2 linked regions of the Homo sapiens genome follow. The protein of the gene in region 2 interacts with the protein of the main gene of each other region in a pairwise test. Each region holds a gene or a part of one and is shown on either strand. Other genes may lie near its edges.

Region 1 (5,734 bases), on a different chromosome or scaffold from region 2:
TCTGAGACACAAACACATATATTAGCCTAGGAGTACACAGGGTCAGGGTCATCAATATCACTGCCTTCCACCTCCACACCTTGTCTCAGTGGAAGGTCTTCAGGGGCAAGTAACATGCATGGAGCTGTCATCTCCTGTGATAACTAACAGTGCCTTCTTCCGGAATACCTCCTGAAGGACCTGCCCGAGGCTGCTTTACAGTTAACTTTTTAAAAACCATATAAGTAGAAGGAGTACACCCTAAAATAGTGTTTTAAAATTATAGAGTAATAAATACATAAACTACTAACATAGTCATTATCATCACGTATTACATACTGTAATAATTGTATGTGCTGTACTTTTATACAGCTAGCAGCACAGTAGGTTTGTTTACACCAGCATCACCACAGACATTTGCATAATATGTTGTGCTGTGACCCTATGACAGCTATGCGGTCATTAGGCGATAGGAGTTGTTGAGAGCCAAAAAGGCCAAAGGGATCGTGATCAACTCAGCATTCCACTGGAGGCTATATGATCAAACAGCAAACTGTTTATCATGAATGCAGGATGTGAGCAAACTCACACTGCGCCTGCCACCAAAAGGTTTGCTGAGGGACATCACTCCCTGGCACCGGGCTCCTTGAAGTTATCCATTGAGAAATCTAGAGCCTATTGTTCAAAGGATGCAGTCTTGCAAGCCTGCTGTGAACCAAAGTGGCCGACTGACAATTGCCCGACAATTGCCCCCCATTTCTCGTTATCTCTTTTACCAATAAATACGGAGGGCTGTGTACAGCTCGGGGCCCTTGTCCACTAGAGGCAAGGTGCCCCCGACCTCTTCTTCCAAACGTACTCTCTTGTTTTTATCTTTTATTCCCACGTTCGCCCCCTTTGTTCAGTCCACCAGGTCTGTGCAGGTATAATGGAGTTTTTCAGCTCCATTATAATCTTATAGGACCACCATCATATCTGTGGTCTGACATTGATGTATATGTATATACCTATATATGTGTATATATATACCTTTATATGTATAGTTATATGTATATATATACACCTATATATGTATAGTTATATATACATGTATAACTATACATATATAATATACATATATAGTTATATAGGTATATATATACATATATAGTTATACATGTATACCTATACATATATAGGTATACATTATATAGGTATATATAATATATATAATATACATGTATACTATGTATACATATATTATAGTTGTATAATGTATACATATACATAACTTTATATTATAATTGTACTCCCTTTCAGAAGCAATGTCTCTATGGTACAGTGAAAACAATACTCTTTGAGGGTCAAAGGGCTATCCTGGCTCTCTTTCTCATTTAACTTGTCTGGATCAGTGTCATGTTTGTAAAGTGGGAGGACTGGCTTGAATTCGCTTTCAGTTCTTACTTTGCTGTGAAATTATTTTGCTCCTGAAAATATTTCTGACTATTGAGTGCATGCTAGAGAAAAATATGTTTATGGTTCTCTCGGCCAATATTAGGAAAGATTTGAGACTAGCAATTCATTCCTTCAATATTTAAGGATACTTTTTTCTTTTTTTTTTGAGACTAAGTCTGGCTCTGTCGCCAAGGCTAGAGTGTAGTGTCTCGATCTTGTCTTATGCAACCTCCGCCTCCCAGGCTCAAGCCATTCTCTCACCTCAGTCTTCCGAGTAGGTGGGACTACAGGCATGCACCACCATACCTGGCTGATTTTTGTATTTTTTGTACAGATGGGGTTTCACCATGTTGGCCAGGCTGGTTTTAAATTCATGAGCTCAAACAGTCCATCTGCCTTGGCTTCCCAAAGTGCTGGGATTATAGCTATGAGCCAATGCACCTAGCCATAGTTAAGGATAGTCTATAATTACCTCTGTTTTACTTAAGTGAAGTGATGGGCAACTCTATACTCTTAATGATAATGGTTGGCCAAGTTATCAGTCACATGATGACTACTTAGTCTGTGCTTGCCCTACAGTAGCAATTGCAGAATACTTTAGCTAGAACTTTTTTTTTTAAGTTTTTAGCACTATAGAAGTAGTGAAAAAGCAGATGTTACATTAACAAAACAAGAGAAATTCATGTAAAAAGGAAAGCTTATCTGAGTTTTTGCAAGAATAGACTTAATTTTGCCAGTGACAATTATGTGTTTAAATATTACATTCTGATTTCATCACATGTATTTCCTGAGAGGACAGTGGAAGTAAAAGAAGTTCTAATGCTACAGATTTGAGAATGTTCTGAAAGCGTCGTACCTTTAAGAGTTATCTCCAGAACATTCTTGCTGTCCTAGTGCCACAAACCATGCTTGTGTTTTTTGATTTGCCTATCTCAGATACTTTGGGATTCTGCAGAAATGAAATACAGTGATTTTGTATTAATTGGGAAATTCTTAATATATAATTCAATTTTTAATCTTTTCTATGCTTCTGATTCTGAAATATATCATTTGCCATCTCCTTGTATAAATATTATGATTGTCCCTGCTTCAAGGAAACATTTATATGATCTTGATGATTTCTTTGTTAGGTTTTGGTATATTTTACAAATTTCCACCACTTAGGCTTAGGATTAGACCAAGCCTGCCACATTCCCAAGGTACCTTTTGATAGAGATGTTTATACAAGGTACACAGAATAACACGCAACATCCTGTTCATAATTTGGAGTGGCTTTTCAGACACAAACAGCATGTCTAACTGGTTACTTGAAAAAATTACATGTTGTATACATATCAATGCTTGATTTGTTTTAATGGAAAAAAATGGCTTGTTTTGTCTTACAGATATGATGATATGTTAGTGGTACCCATTATTGAGAATACACCTGAGGAGAAAGACCTCAAAGATAGAATGGCTCATGCAATGAATGAATACCCAGACTCCTGTGCAGTACTGGTCAGACGTCATGGAGTATATGTGTGGGGGGAAACATGGGAGAAGGCCAAAACCATGTGAGTGTAAATCAGAGAACATGGGGAACAAGTTACCACCCGCTAAATGTGAAGGAAAACAAAGTATGTCAGTTGGTTTAAATTTAAATTGTTTATCATTATTTGTAGATACTTTATTTTTATTATGTATCCATTCATGAAGAAGTATTGATTGGATGAGCTGTTGTTTGGCAAGGCTCTAGGAATGTTGATAGAGGAAGAAGACACAGATCCCAAGTTACAAAAGTTCTATTTCAGAAAGTGACATCTAGTTTAAAAAAAATGTAAATTTATGTAGGCAGTATATTTTAAACTCTCTTTTATTTCCTGAGAGGTATGTAATATTGTTGCATGACTTAATATGATTCCTTTCTGTGTTTTAAAAATGTTGAGGGAAAAATAGAATTTTGGCCTAGAATTGAGAGAAAATACATACTAGGAACAAAGCAGAGTTAACTGCAAGAGAGGAGAAATGTGATTCTTTAGGATTGGAGAACTCTGTTTCGATAAACACTGGTTCTTTTTGCTTTTTCTTTTACAGGTGTGAGTGTTATGACTATTTATTTGATATTGCCGTATCAATGAAGAAAGTAGGACTTGATCCTTCACAGCTCCCAGTTGGAGAAAATGGAATTGTCTAAGCCAAAAGAAAGTCTAATTATATACAGAGATAAAGCTAAACGTAATTATTATTTAAATGAAAGCTATTTTTTTAAATGAATTGAAATTTTTCATGATGCTACTAATTTGCCACTAAATACTGCAAATGGTCACCCTGAATCTCTTCTGACATTGGATGTTATTTGCTTATATTCTTATAATTTTAAATGAGGGCACAGTGAAATGAAAATTTTATACTCTATGTTTCTGTTTATTTTTAAATCCTTAACAGCAAAATATTTGCCTTTAATTTCTTTTTTATATATACTCTCAGAGAATTCCTCTTAATTTTTAAAGATGCTGGTGATAATAAAATTCATTAGAAAATTTCCTCATTGTGGAATGAGCATTCTCTTGTTTTAATGTTGGTGTCAGAAAATAAATATGAAACATTAAGTCCAAATTTATCCCTCAATGTTAATGTCAAAATAATTTTATAGATTTCCCCTATTAGCTTTAGTGTTTCCCTGTGGTCTACAACAGGACACTCATTTTATATTGGGATCAGTTGTGAAATTCAGGTCAGGTGGTATCAACTCAAATTCCCTTAACCAAACAAATCTTGATCAAACCGATGATGTAATCAGAAAGTCCTTTCTTTAAAATTGTTTTAAATTTTAGGTTTGGGGGCCCACATGAAGGTTTGTTACATAGACAAACACATGTCACAGGGGTTTGTTGTACATATTATTACATCACCCGGGTATTAAGTTCAGTATCCAATAGTTATCTTTTATGCTCTTCTTCCTCCTCCCACCCTCCGCCATCAAGTAGACCCCAGTGTCTGTTGTTTCCTTCTTTGTAGTCATAAGTTATTGCCATTTAGCTCCCACTTAGAAGTGAGAACATGCAGTATTTGGTTTTCTGTTACTGTGTTAGTTTGCTAAGAATAATAGCCTCCAGCTCCATCCATGTTCCCGCAAAAGACATAATCTTGTTCTTTTCTATGGCTGCATAATATTCCATGGTGTATATGTACCATATTTTCCTTATCCATTCTGTCACTGATGGGCATTTAGGTTGATTCCGTGTCTTTACTCTTGTGAATAGTGCTGCAGTGAACATTTGTGTGCATGTGTCGTTATGGTAGAATGCTTTATATTCCTTCAGGTATATACCCAGTAATAATAGGATTGCTGGGTCAAATGGTTGTTCTGCTTTTAGCTCTTTGAGGAATTGCCATACTGCTTTCCACAATGTTTGAACTAATTTGCACTCCTACCAACACTATGTAAGGGTTCCCTTTTCCCTGCAACCTTGCCTGTATCTGGGTTTGTTTGTTTTTTCTTTTTTTTTTTTTTTTTTTTTTGTGACAGTCTTGCTCTGTCACCCAGGCTGGAGTGCAGTAGCACCATCTTGGCTTACTGCAACCTCCATCTCCTGGGTTCAAGCGATTCTCCTGCCTCAGCCTCCCAAGTAGCTGGGATCACAGGCATGCTACCACCCCCGGCTAATTTTTGTATTTTAGTAGAGACAGGGTTTCGCCATGTTGGCCAGACTGGTCTCAAACTCCTGGCCTCAAATGATCCGCCCACCTCGGCCTCCCAAAGTGCTGTGATTACAGGCATGAGCCACTGCCCCCAGCCTGTTTTCTGGATTCTTGGCGGAGGTTCTTCCACTGGGGAAAAATAGTTTTAGCCACCTCTGGTTAATTTCATTTTCCTCATTTTAAAATGCAGCTAATGAATAAGATAAAGTATGTGGAGGAACAAACCACAATGCTTAATCCAGTGTAGATGTTCAATAAATATTAGTGTTTTTTAAAATCCCTTTTAATCCTCATAATAGTCTTTTGAGATAGATATTGTACCTATTTTCTTAGATGAGAAAATTGAGGCTCAGATAGGAATAATAAATATGTAGAATTTAAATAAGAGAAAACAGGTAAACTTCTTAACACAGTACCTGTCATATACTATGTATGCACTCAAAATATAAACTTCCTTTCCTAAAAACCCCTCACCTAGCTATCTTCAAAGTAATTGTCATGCAGGTAAACCATTTAAACTATACAGCAGCAGCAGCACATCTCCAGTTGTATATTTCTTTCCTGGGAGTGCAGAAAAGATTGCAAAACCTGCTTTAGAGGTAGGGGAACAGCTGGTGGAAGGCTGTATCCCCTAGTTAAT
Region 2 (9,632 bases):
AGACGGGGTTTCACCATGTTGGCCAGGCTGGTCTTGAACTCCTGACCTTGTGATCTGCCCGCCTCGGCCTCCCAAAGTGCTGGGATTACAGACTTGAGCCACCTCGCCCAGCCTTATTGATTTACTTTTTTGAGATGGAGTCTCTGCCACACAGGCTGGAGTGCAGTGGCACAATCTCGGCTCACTGCAACCTCCACCTCCCAGGTTCAAGTGATTGTCCTGCCTCAGCCTTCTGAGTAGCTGGGATCACAGGCATGCACCACCACATCTGGCTATTTTTTTTTTGTATTTTTGTTAGAGACTGGCTTTCACCATGTTGACCAGGCTGGTCTCGAACTTCTGACCTTAGGTGATCCGCCCACCTCGGCCTCCCAAAGTGTTGGCCACCGCGCACGGCCTTAGCTTATTTTCTAAACAGAAAATAAAACGAAAGAGGGCCTTGGGTGGACAAGTGTTGATGGATAATGATAATCTGGCTCTGTCAACTTGAAGCAACAACAACGAAAGACAGAAGGAAAATACCACGTTCATATGAGAACATGAGAAGCCCTCCGGGGCCCTGCCCATCTGAAAAAATGGCGTAGTAGGCCACGTGCAGGTGGCTCACACCTGTAATCCCAGCACTTTGAGAGGTTGAGGTAGGTGGATCACCTGAGGTCAGGAGTTCAAGACCAGTCTGGCCAACATGGTGAAACGCCGTCTCTACTAAAAATACAAAAATTAGCTGGGTGTGGTGGCAGGTGCCTGTAATCCCAGCAGCTAGGGAGGCTGAGGCAGGAGAATCTCTTGAACCCGGGAGGCGGAGGTTGCAATGAGCCAAGATTGTGCCACTGCACTCCAGCCTGGGTGACACAGCGAGACTCTGTCTCAAAAGAAAGAAAGAAAGAAAAAAAAAGTGTAGCAGAAATAGACCAAAGAGCAAAGGCAATTCAATGGAGAAACGGTAGCCTTCCCAGCAAATGGTGCTGGAACAACTGGACATCCACATGGAAAAATGAACCTAGGCACAGACTGCTGTGGCTTGAAGGTATGTGGCCTTCCAAAATTCATATGCTGAAACCTAATTATCAAGATGATGGTATCGCAGGGTGGGGCCTTTGAGAGGTGATTCGGTCATGAGGGCTCTACTCTCATGAACAGGATTAGTGCCCTGATAAAAGAGGCTTCATGCAGTGGTCTTGCTTTACTCCCCTTTTCCAACACGTAAGGACATCATGAGAAGATATCATTGATGGAACAGACCTTCACCAGGCATGGAACCAGTTGGCACTGTGATCTTGGGCTTCCCAGCCTCCAGAACTGTGAGAAAAATGATCTGAGACAGACCTTCCATCCTTCACAAACATTATCTCAAAACAGATCATGGACTCAAATGTAAAACACAAAACTATCGAATCCTAGAGGATAACATGGGAACATCAGGTGACACTGGGTTTGGTGATGACTTCTTTAGATACAAGGCCAACAGCACGACCCATGGAGAGAGAGAAAACAAAGCAGCAAACTCAGCTCATGGCCAAGTAAGGAAAGGGCAACCCGGTTACTCCAGGCCAAGGCTCCCAGGAGAAGGGAGCTGGACAGAGTTTCTGGGTCGTGGTCTGGCTTCAGCCTCCCTGACAGTCCCTTCTGGAAAAGCCAGTGGGCAAGGTCGTTAGAGACTCCTGGGAAACATGGGTCCCCACTCACACATCTGACACGGCTGGGCTGGGGACTGGGGATTGCACGCATCCAGTGGAAAAAATACAGTTGGCCTTCATATCCGTGGGTTTCACATCTGAGGATTCAACTGGCCATGGATGGAAAACACTTGAAAAATAAAAAATAGCAATACAACAATAAAGATAATACAAATTAAAAAACAAATCAGGCCGGGCACAGGGGCTCATGCCTGTAATCCCAGCACTTTGGGAGGCCGAGTTGGGCGGATCACGAGGTCAGGAGATCGAGACCATCCTGGCTAACACGGTGAAACCCTGTCTCTACTAAAAATACAAAAAATTAGCCGGGCATGGTGACAGGCACCTGTAGTCCCAGCTACTAGGGAGGCTGAGGTGGGAGAATGGTGTGAACCCGGGAGGCGGAGCTTGCAGTGAGCCGAGATCGCGCCACTGCACTCCAGCCTGGGCGACAGAGTGAGACTCCATCTCAAAAAAAAAAAAAAAAAAAAAAAAAAATCATTACACTATAACTGTTTATGTAACACTGACATTGCATCCGGTAATACAAGTAATCTAGAGAAGATTTAAAGCATTAGAGAGGATGAGCAAAGGTCCTATGCAAATAGTATGTCATTTTAGATCAGGGATTTGGGTGTCCATGGATTTTGGTATCCCCAGTAGGGGGAAGCCTGGAACCCATGCCCCGTGGACACCGAAGGACAACTGTAGTCAGAAGGGTGGGATCTTCTGTGTGTCCTGCTTCTAAGAGCACCATGGCCTTTTTGCAGCTCTCTATGGTGGGTCAGAGTGGAGCCCTTCTGTGGGGTGTCATGGCATCCTCAGTGGGTCCAAGCTCTGGGACGTGGAGGGAGAGCAGGGACCTACCTCATCAGCACAGAGTAAGATAGGACCCATCCAGATAGGAATCTGGGCCAGACTCACCTGGGTACCCATCTTCAGGTTAAAGAATGCTGGAGTGCCCCGGGGAGCATGGTGGTGCCGCCCTCACCCTGTCTCTATCTTGAGCGCAATCGCCCGCTCCAGCCTGACTGCTGTGCTGGGATGTCACTGCACTGTCCTCAAGCTGCACTGTCAAGCGCAGTAACTGCCCCATGATCAGCTGTCTCTCATGTCCTTCCTCCCGGACGCTCTCCCAGGGCTGTATATTTGTTAGGGTTTTCTGATTACAGGGAGAAGCTGACTCTAACTTTAGCAAGAAAATGGATTTATCTGGCATGATGCTGGGTAGATCACCAAACTGGTGGAATGTCTAATGGAGCGGGGTTTCGGACACACAGGCGAGACCGGTTCTTTTTTTGTTTTGTTGTTTTAGAGACTGAGTCTCACTCTGTGGCCCCGGCTGGAGTGCAGTGGTGCAACCACAGCTCCTTGTAACATTGAATTCCTGGGGCCAGCCATCCTCCCGCCTCAGCCTCCTGAGTAGCTGGGACTACAGGTGCGTGCCACCACGCCCGGCTAACTGAGACCTGTTTTGAGTGGGATCCAGAGCAAGAAAGGACCCTGCAGGAGGACTGGGCTGCGGGGCAAGCTGCTCTGCCACCAGCAGCGAGAGCCCGCCAACCTAACGGTGCTGGAGGGATCTGTCCATGGTAGGCCAGGATGCTGTGCGGAACCCTCAGGAAGCCTCAATGGAAGGATCCCAGCAGGGACCATAGAGGCTGTGGCAGGGCCACACCTTCGGTGGCAGAGCTACTCACTCACCACTGAAAAAAGCATAGCTGTGGCCATGCTACTGGGACCTAGGAGAGACTTACAGCCTGATCATGGGGCATCCAGGGCCTGTGTGACCCAAGCCACCCATTGTGAACTGAATATTGAGGTGGAGATGGCACATTGAGGCCCAGGCAGTCCAGACCCCCGGTCACCCGGCTCTTTCACACTGGTATGCCCCTTCAGCTCACACCTATGGCCTCATGGGAGGTGGTGATGGGGTGTCCCCATGACTGACTCAGACCCAGGTCCTCGACTGGTCATCTCATGTCACCACTAGGAAAAACACCTGCTGTCACACTGAGGCCCTTTGCAGGGTGGCCCTGAGAGACAGCAGTGAGGGGACATCCTCTAGGGGAGCAAGACACTAGGTTGTCTACTTTGTAGAGGGAGAAATGGCCTGAGATGAAGGTGTCCATGACCCCCGGGCAGTGGAAAATGGCTGGGCTGACTGGTCAGGGACCCGGGTGGAGGAAGATTGGAAGAAGAGACAGGTTTGGCGAAGAGGTACCTACGGGAGTGCTCAGGGAGAGTGTGGGGCCCCGTGCTCGTCTTCGCGCCCATGCCGCTGGGGAGCATGCAGTGTGGAGGGGGCGCGCCAGAAGCTAGCGAACAGAGGGGACCATCTGGTGGAGGTCAGCCAGCTTCTCCCCAGGATGCGATGGACCCACGATGCCAGTGGCCATGGTGGGAGGGCTGGAGGCTCTGTATAAGCCCAACGGCAAGGGCTTCCTCTTACCACGGCTCATCTAGACACTGCCGCTAGTGAATGTTCTTCCATCCACCAGCTGCAGAGACCGATGCTGAGCCCTCAATATGACGCCATTCCTCAAGACTAGCCAGCCATTGGGTGGCAGGTTGCAACCTGCACACCAGCCCTTGTCTCAAGTTCTGCTTTCTGGGAGAAGCCCTGGATAAGAAACTCGCCTCTCTTCTCCACATTCTGGGCAGGCCCGCCATTCTTGATTTCTCTTCTAACGAGGAGCCAGGGAGGAAAGGAAGGGCTCCGATTCAACAGCCCCGTGTGGCTGGGGGTTCCCTCACTTGCCCAAACCTGGAAATGAAGCATGTAGCAATTTCTCCAAGTGATCTCCTGCAGCCGGGGCAGCCTCTGGGAACGCAGACTTCCACCCGCTGCTGCTTTCCAGGCAAAGGCCTTCTCCCTCCAGGCTTGTCCAAGAAGACGGGGAGGTGGTGGGAGAGAAGAGGAAGAGATGGAAGGGCTGTGAAAGCGGGGACCGGGTGAGGGCTGGGGCTGAGGAACAGGTAGGCGGCGGGCCCAGGCTGGCCAGTGCTGTGTGCAGGCCCGGGTCCCAAGGCCTCCGAGGCCACTCTCCCCACGACCCACCCCCTCCCCACGCTTCGCTCATCCTTTTTTCTTTCTCTCTTTCTTTTCTTTCCTCCCTTTCTCTCTTTCTTTCTTGTTTTAAACAAAGGTGTCCGTTTCAAAGACAGCAGGGAATGGCTGAGTTGAAGGAGGGATGCAGTCATTTAAGGCGAAGCCCGAGGAAGGAGCAGAGGCGTGAGGGCTGCTGCGTCCAAGACCGGGGAGAGGGGCTGAAATCGCGGACTCTCTCTGGGGGACCCAGGAGACTGCTCCTCCTGGCAGGACCCCTCTCTCCCAGAGCGGCATCGCGCAGACAACGCGCCTGGTGCCCGCCCCTCAGGACCGGACGCCGGGTGTCGTGGGGTGCCTAGGACCCCCGCCCGCTTCCGTCGAGCGCCCGCCCCCGGCTTCCCGCGCCGGCTCCAGCGCCCCCGCCGCTCCCTCCCGCAGCCGGCCCCGCTCCCCTCCCCGCCCCTCCCGGCGCGCGTGCGCCCCGTGCCCGCGCCCCTCCCCCGCCGCCGTGGGCGCGCTCGCGTGCCCGTCGTCCCGGGCGGGAGCTGGAGACGGCCAGCGGCTGCTGGACGAAGAGCGGGCGCCGGGAGCTCCGAGAGCGCGGCCGGGCGAGGCGGGAGCGCGGGCGCTGGCCTGGCCGCGGGCGGGGGCCGCCGCCGCGCCGCTGCCCCCCTGTCGCGGGCCGGGCCGCGGCGCCGAGCGCGAGGGCCGGGCTCCCGGGGCTGGCGGCCATGGGCAGGAGCCGGAGGCGGCAGCGGCAGCGGCGGGCCCCGCGGGCGGGGAGGCGCGCGGCCCACGGCCCCTGACGGCCCCTGGCGGCCCGGCGCGCCCCCGCGCTCCCTGGGGGGCCGTAGCCTGGCAACGCCCGGCGCGCCCGCCCATCCCCCGCTGCCCTTTTTCTCCTGGCCGGGTGCGAGGGAGCATGCCCGCGCCTGGCCTCGGCCAGCGAAGAGTTAACCTGAGGGGCGAGCCGCTGCCCCCACCTCGGGGGCGTGCCCCCCTCCCCCGCTAGGCGGCCCGCCCCCCGCGCCAGGGTATGGCCCCTGGCCCCGGCCCGGGACCCGAGGTCCCGCGCCCGGGTCAGTGAAAGGCGTCTTCCCGTTCCCGCCCTCCGCCTCCTCTCGCCGGCCAGCAACATGGGATGTAATATGTGCGTGGTCCAGAAACCGGAGGAGCAGTACAAAGTGATGCTGCAGGTAGGGCCGCCGGCGCTGCGGCGGGGGCGCGGCCCTCCGCGGGGAGGAGCGGGCCAGTGGGGAGGCCCGGAGCGGCGGGCGTGGGAGAGCGGGAGGGCTCGAGGAGGACAAGGTAGGGAGCCGTCCGCACCCTCCCATCCTGGGGCTGTTGGGTGTTGGCGCTCCGTGGGAACCAGCCACGGGTGGGGTGGGAAGTTGGGGTTGGCCCGGGTGGGGCGCGCTTCCGTCCCGGGAGGCGCGGTGCGGCGGGCGCGGGATGGAGGTTGCATAGCAACGAGCGCAGTTCCCCGCACACGCTCTCCCCGCAGGACCCAGGGCGGGGGAGGGAGCCAGGCTCCCGCCGTGCGGGGGGCGCCGAATCTAGATCCCGGCGGGCCTGGAGCGTGGGAGTGCGTGGGCGTCCCCGGGCGCGGTCCAAGTCCGTCCGGGGGCTGGGTGCCCACCCCGACACCCACTCCCGCCTGGCCCTGCCCGAACGATGGGCTCCCGGGCCTTAGGCGTCTCGGGTGAGTGGGCGCCGCCGGGATCAGCGGGTTGGGCTCTCTGCGGGTGGCAGTGCCTGGCCGGGCTTTGCGGGGCGTGGACCAGCAGGGCCCCGCGGGGAGGGAAGGAGACGCGGGGCCCGGAGCTCGGACCTGGAGCCCAGCCCCGCGGCCCGGAACGGGGCTTCTTGCCTGTGCGTGGCGTGACTACGTGAGTGCGTTCCTGTGCCCCGTCTCTGTGTGCGCGGAGGCTCCCCCGGCCCCGCATTTGTGTACTTTCTGTGTGCACCCTGCAGACTGTCTAGAGAAATGTCCCGGATGCTGTGGGCTGAGACCTCCTAGGGCTAAGTGGAGGGAGGTCAAGGTCAAGGCACCCAGGAGCAGACAGGGCTCAGACAGGTATGCGTTTAGTGGCCTGGATTCAACTCCCGGGTTTATTGGTCTGGACTGGGAAGGAATCAAGTGCTTTGCAGGAGGGGTGTTGGCTTGGGAGAACGTGGGGGAACCCGTGCAGGGATCGGCGAGAACTCCGGGGCGGGGGCGGGGGCGGGGGAAGGAGGGGCTGGGCACGGGGGAGAATTCCCAGGAATCCGGGGACTGACTTCACGCTGTGAGCCGAGCTCCTCTGGCCACCTGGTGCGGGAGCCGAGGGGCAGGGCGGGGACGCAAATCTTGCCCCACCCTGGCGGAGCTCCTGGTCCTCTCTCCCCGGCCCTTCTCCGGGGGTGCGCGGGGCCCTCGGCTTCTCCCGTTCGCTGTCCTCCGCCTTCTTCCCTCTCAGTTCCCGGCTGCCACTCCTCGTCTCTTGTTCCCGCTGTTTGGAAACCTTGTGTGGCCATTGCCAGCCCCCTAGCGGGATAGGAATGCGACCGAGAGGGCGTCCTGTGGAATCCGTGTTGGATTCCAGGGCTGGGATGGTTGGTTGACGGGGACTCTGGATCCCATCCTCCTGCTTCCTTTTCGGGAGTCATTCCATCAAACGGCAAGCGATTTCTCCAAGCGATTCCTCCGGGGCCGTTTTGACTTTCCTGGAGAAGGATTGGTGTCGCACTTCATTTAAGGCCAACCTCGTGGGGACGTGTGGATAGGGGAGAGCGACCCGAGCTGCACCCCAGGCCTGAAATGAGCCATGGGACGACACCGGTAGCCCTTGGGGCTCCCCACAGCCCTCCGGGAAGGCCTCGGCAGGTCGGGCTGGGCCTGCCTTCAGGGAGGTGAACTTGGGTGGGCCCTCCCTGCTCTGCGCCCTAAGCTCTCCTTCATGGAAGGGACTTGCCCACCCCAAGGAGACCCGCCAGGAGGAGGGCCACTGCCGCATGCGCCCTCTGTGCGCTTTCCTGCTGGGCTCCCTTTGAAACCGTGGGAGTTTGGCTGCAAACTTTCACTTTCTACATTCCTCCTTGGCCCAATCAAAGCCGGGATTTTACGAGGAGAACCATCCTTCACAACTAAGGGAAAACAAGAGGACTGAAAAAAGTAGATACGGAAAGCAGTGCAAGCCATGAGCTGTCCCAGGGGACTGCGCTTCTGGGGGTGGACGCATCACCAGGTCCCAGCCTCTTCAGAGGAGAAGGAGCTTTTGTTCCAAAAGACAGGTCAGCTTCTGGGACCCCGTGCCTGCCTCCCGGCCTCCTTAAACACGGGTGCTCCCCCATCTTTAGGGGGCACTTCTCCCTGTCCCCCCTGAGTAACCTCGTCCGCACCTTGTCAGGGTGAGGCACTTCATGGGCCTGATTTTCAGAAAGAAGCACATGTGCATCTGCAGCGCCTTCCATCTACAATCCACAGAGGCCTGGGATCCCCAGGCCAGGAACCCCCAAGTCTCTAGCCTAGCCTTGTGTTCCAAGCCATTTTCTGCCAATGACTCACAACACTTCCAAAATTACAGCTGTATTGAGCTATCATTCTCCTACTGCACAACTTACCCTTTCAAAGTGTACAAGTCAGTGGTTTTTAGTATACTCACAAGGTTGTGCAGCCCACACCAGTAATTCCAGAACGTTTTCATCACCCCAAAAGAAACCCTGCACTCCTTAGCAATCACATCCCCATTTCTCCCTCAAACTTCCTAGCCCCTGGCACCCACCAATCTACTTCCTGTCTCTATGGATTTGTTTATTCTAAACATTTCATAGAAACTGACCTTTTGTGTCTGGCTTTCATTAATCATAATGTTTTCAAGGTTCATCCATGTATCAATAGTCAATTTCTTTTTATTGCCAAATAATATTTCATTTTGTGATATACAACATATTTATCCATTCGTCAGTTGATGAGCATTTGGGGTGCTTCCACCCTTGGGCTGTTGTGAATAGCGCTGCTGTGAACACTGGTCTACTTGTATCTGTTTGAGTCCTTGCTTTTAATTCTTTGGAGTGTGTGCCTGTAGCCATTGAACTGTTTTCCACAGTGGCTGGAACCAGTTTACATTCCCACCAGCAACATATAAGGGTTCCAATTTCTCTATATCTTTGCCAACAGTTGTTATTTTCTGGGTTTTTGTTATGGCCGTCCTGCTGGGTGTGAAGTGGTATCTCATTGTGATTTTGATTTGCACTTCCTGTTAGCTAAATGATGAGCACCTTTTCTTGTGCTTGTTGGCCATTTGTGGATCTTCTTTAGAAAAATGTCTGTTCTTAAGCCAGCGCCACACTGCTTTCATTACTGCAGCTTTGTAGTAAGTTTTGAAGTAAGGAAATGAGAGTCCTCCAACTTTGTACGTCTTTTTCAAGACTGTTTTGTCTATTCTAAGTCCCTCAAGTTTCCATATTAATTTCAGGATCAGGTTGTTAATTTCTGGAAAGAAGCCAGTTGGCATTTTGATAGAGATTGCATCAAATTTGTGGATCAATTTGGGTAGTATTGTTCATGAGCATGGGGTGCGTTTTCCATTTATTTAGGTCTTTAATTTCTTTACATGATGTTTTGCACTTTTGTTTAAGTTTATTCATGAGTATTTTCTTTATGATGCTATCATAAATGGAATCGTTTTCTTAATTTTACTTTCAGCCTTCTCATTGCTACTGTATAGAAATACAATTGATTGGCTGAGCGTGTTGGCTCACACCTGTAATCCCAGCACTTTGGGAGGCCAAGGCGGGTGGCTCACCTGTGCTTAGGAGTTCAAGACCAGCCTGGCCAACATAGTGGAACCCCGTCTCTACTAAAAATACAAAAAAAATTAACGGGGCATGGTGATGTGTGCCTGTAATCCCAGCTACTCAGG

Evidence for each region. The genes of interacting proteins can lie anywhere in the genome.
Region 1: the proteins of PDZD4 (region 2) and APIP interact in a two-hybrid assay, tested with the Homo sapiens proteins (2 studies listed by BioGRID and IntAct).

The regions. Positions count from the first base shown.
Region 1 is NC_000011.10:34,880,569-34,886,302, reverse strand, and holds the end of APIP (methylthioribulose-1-phosphate dehydratase), read left to right. Parts: intron 1-2,798; coding exon 2,799-2,966; intron 2,967-3,486; coding exon 3,487-3,586; 3' UTR 3,587-4,008; downstream 4,009-5,734. UniProt on the Homo sapiens protein: Catalyzes the dehydration of methylthioribulose-1-phosphate (MTRu-1-P) into 2,3-diketo-5-methylthiopentyl-1-phosphate (DK-MTP-1-P).
Region 2 is NC_000023.11:153,826,531-153,836,162, reverse strand, and holds the start of PDZD4 (PDZ domain-containing protein 4), read left to right. Parts: upstream 1-5,618; 5' UTR 5,619-5,864; coding exon 5,865-5,924; intron 5,925-6,203; exon of another isoform or gene 6,204-6,430; intron 6,431-9,632.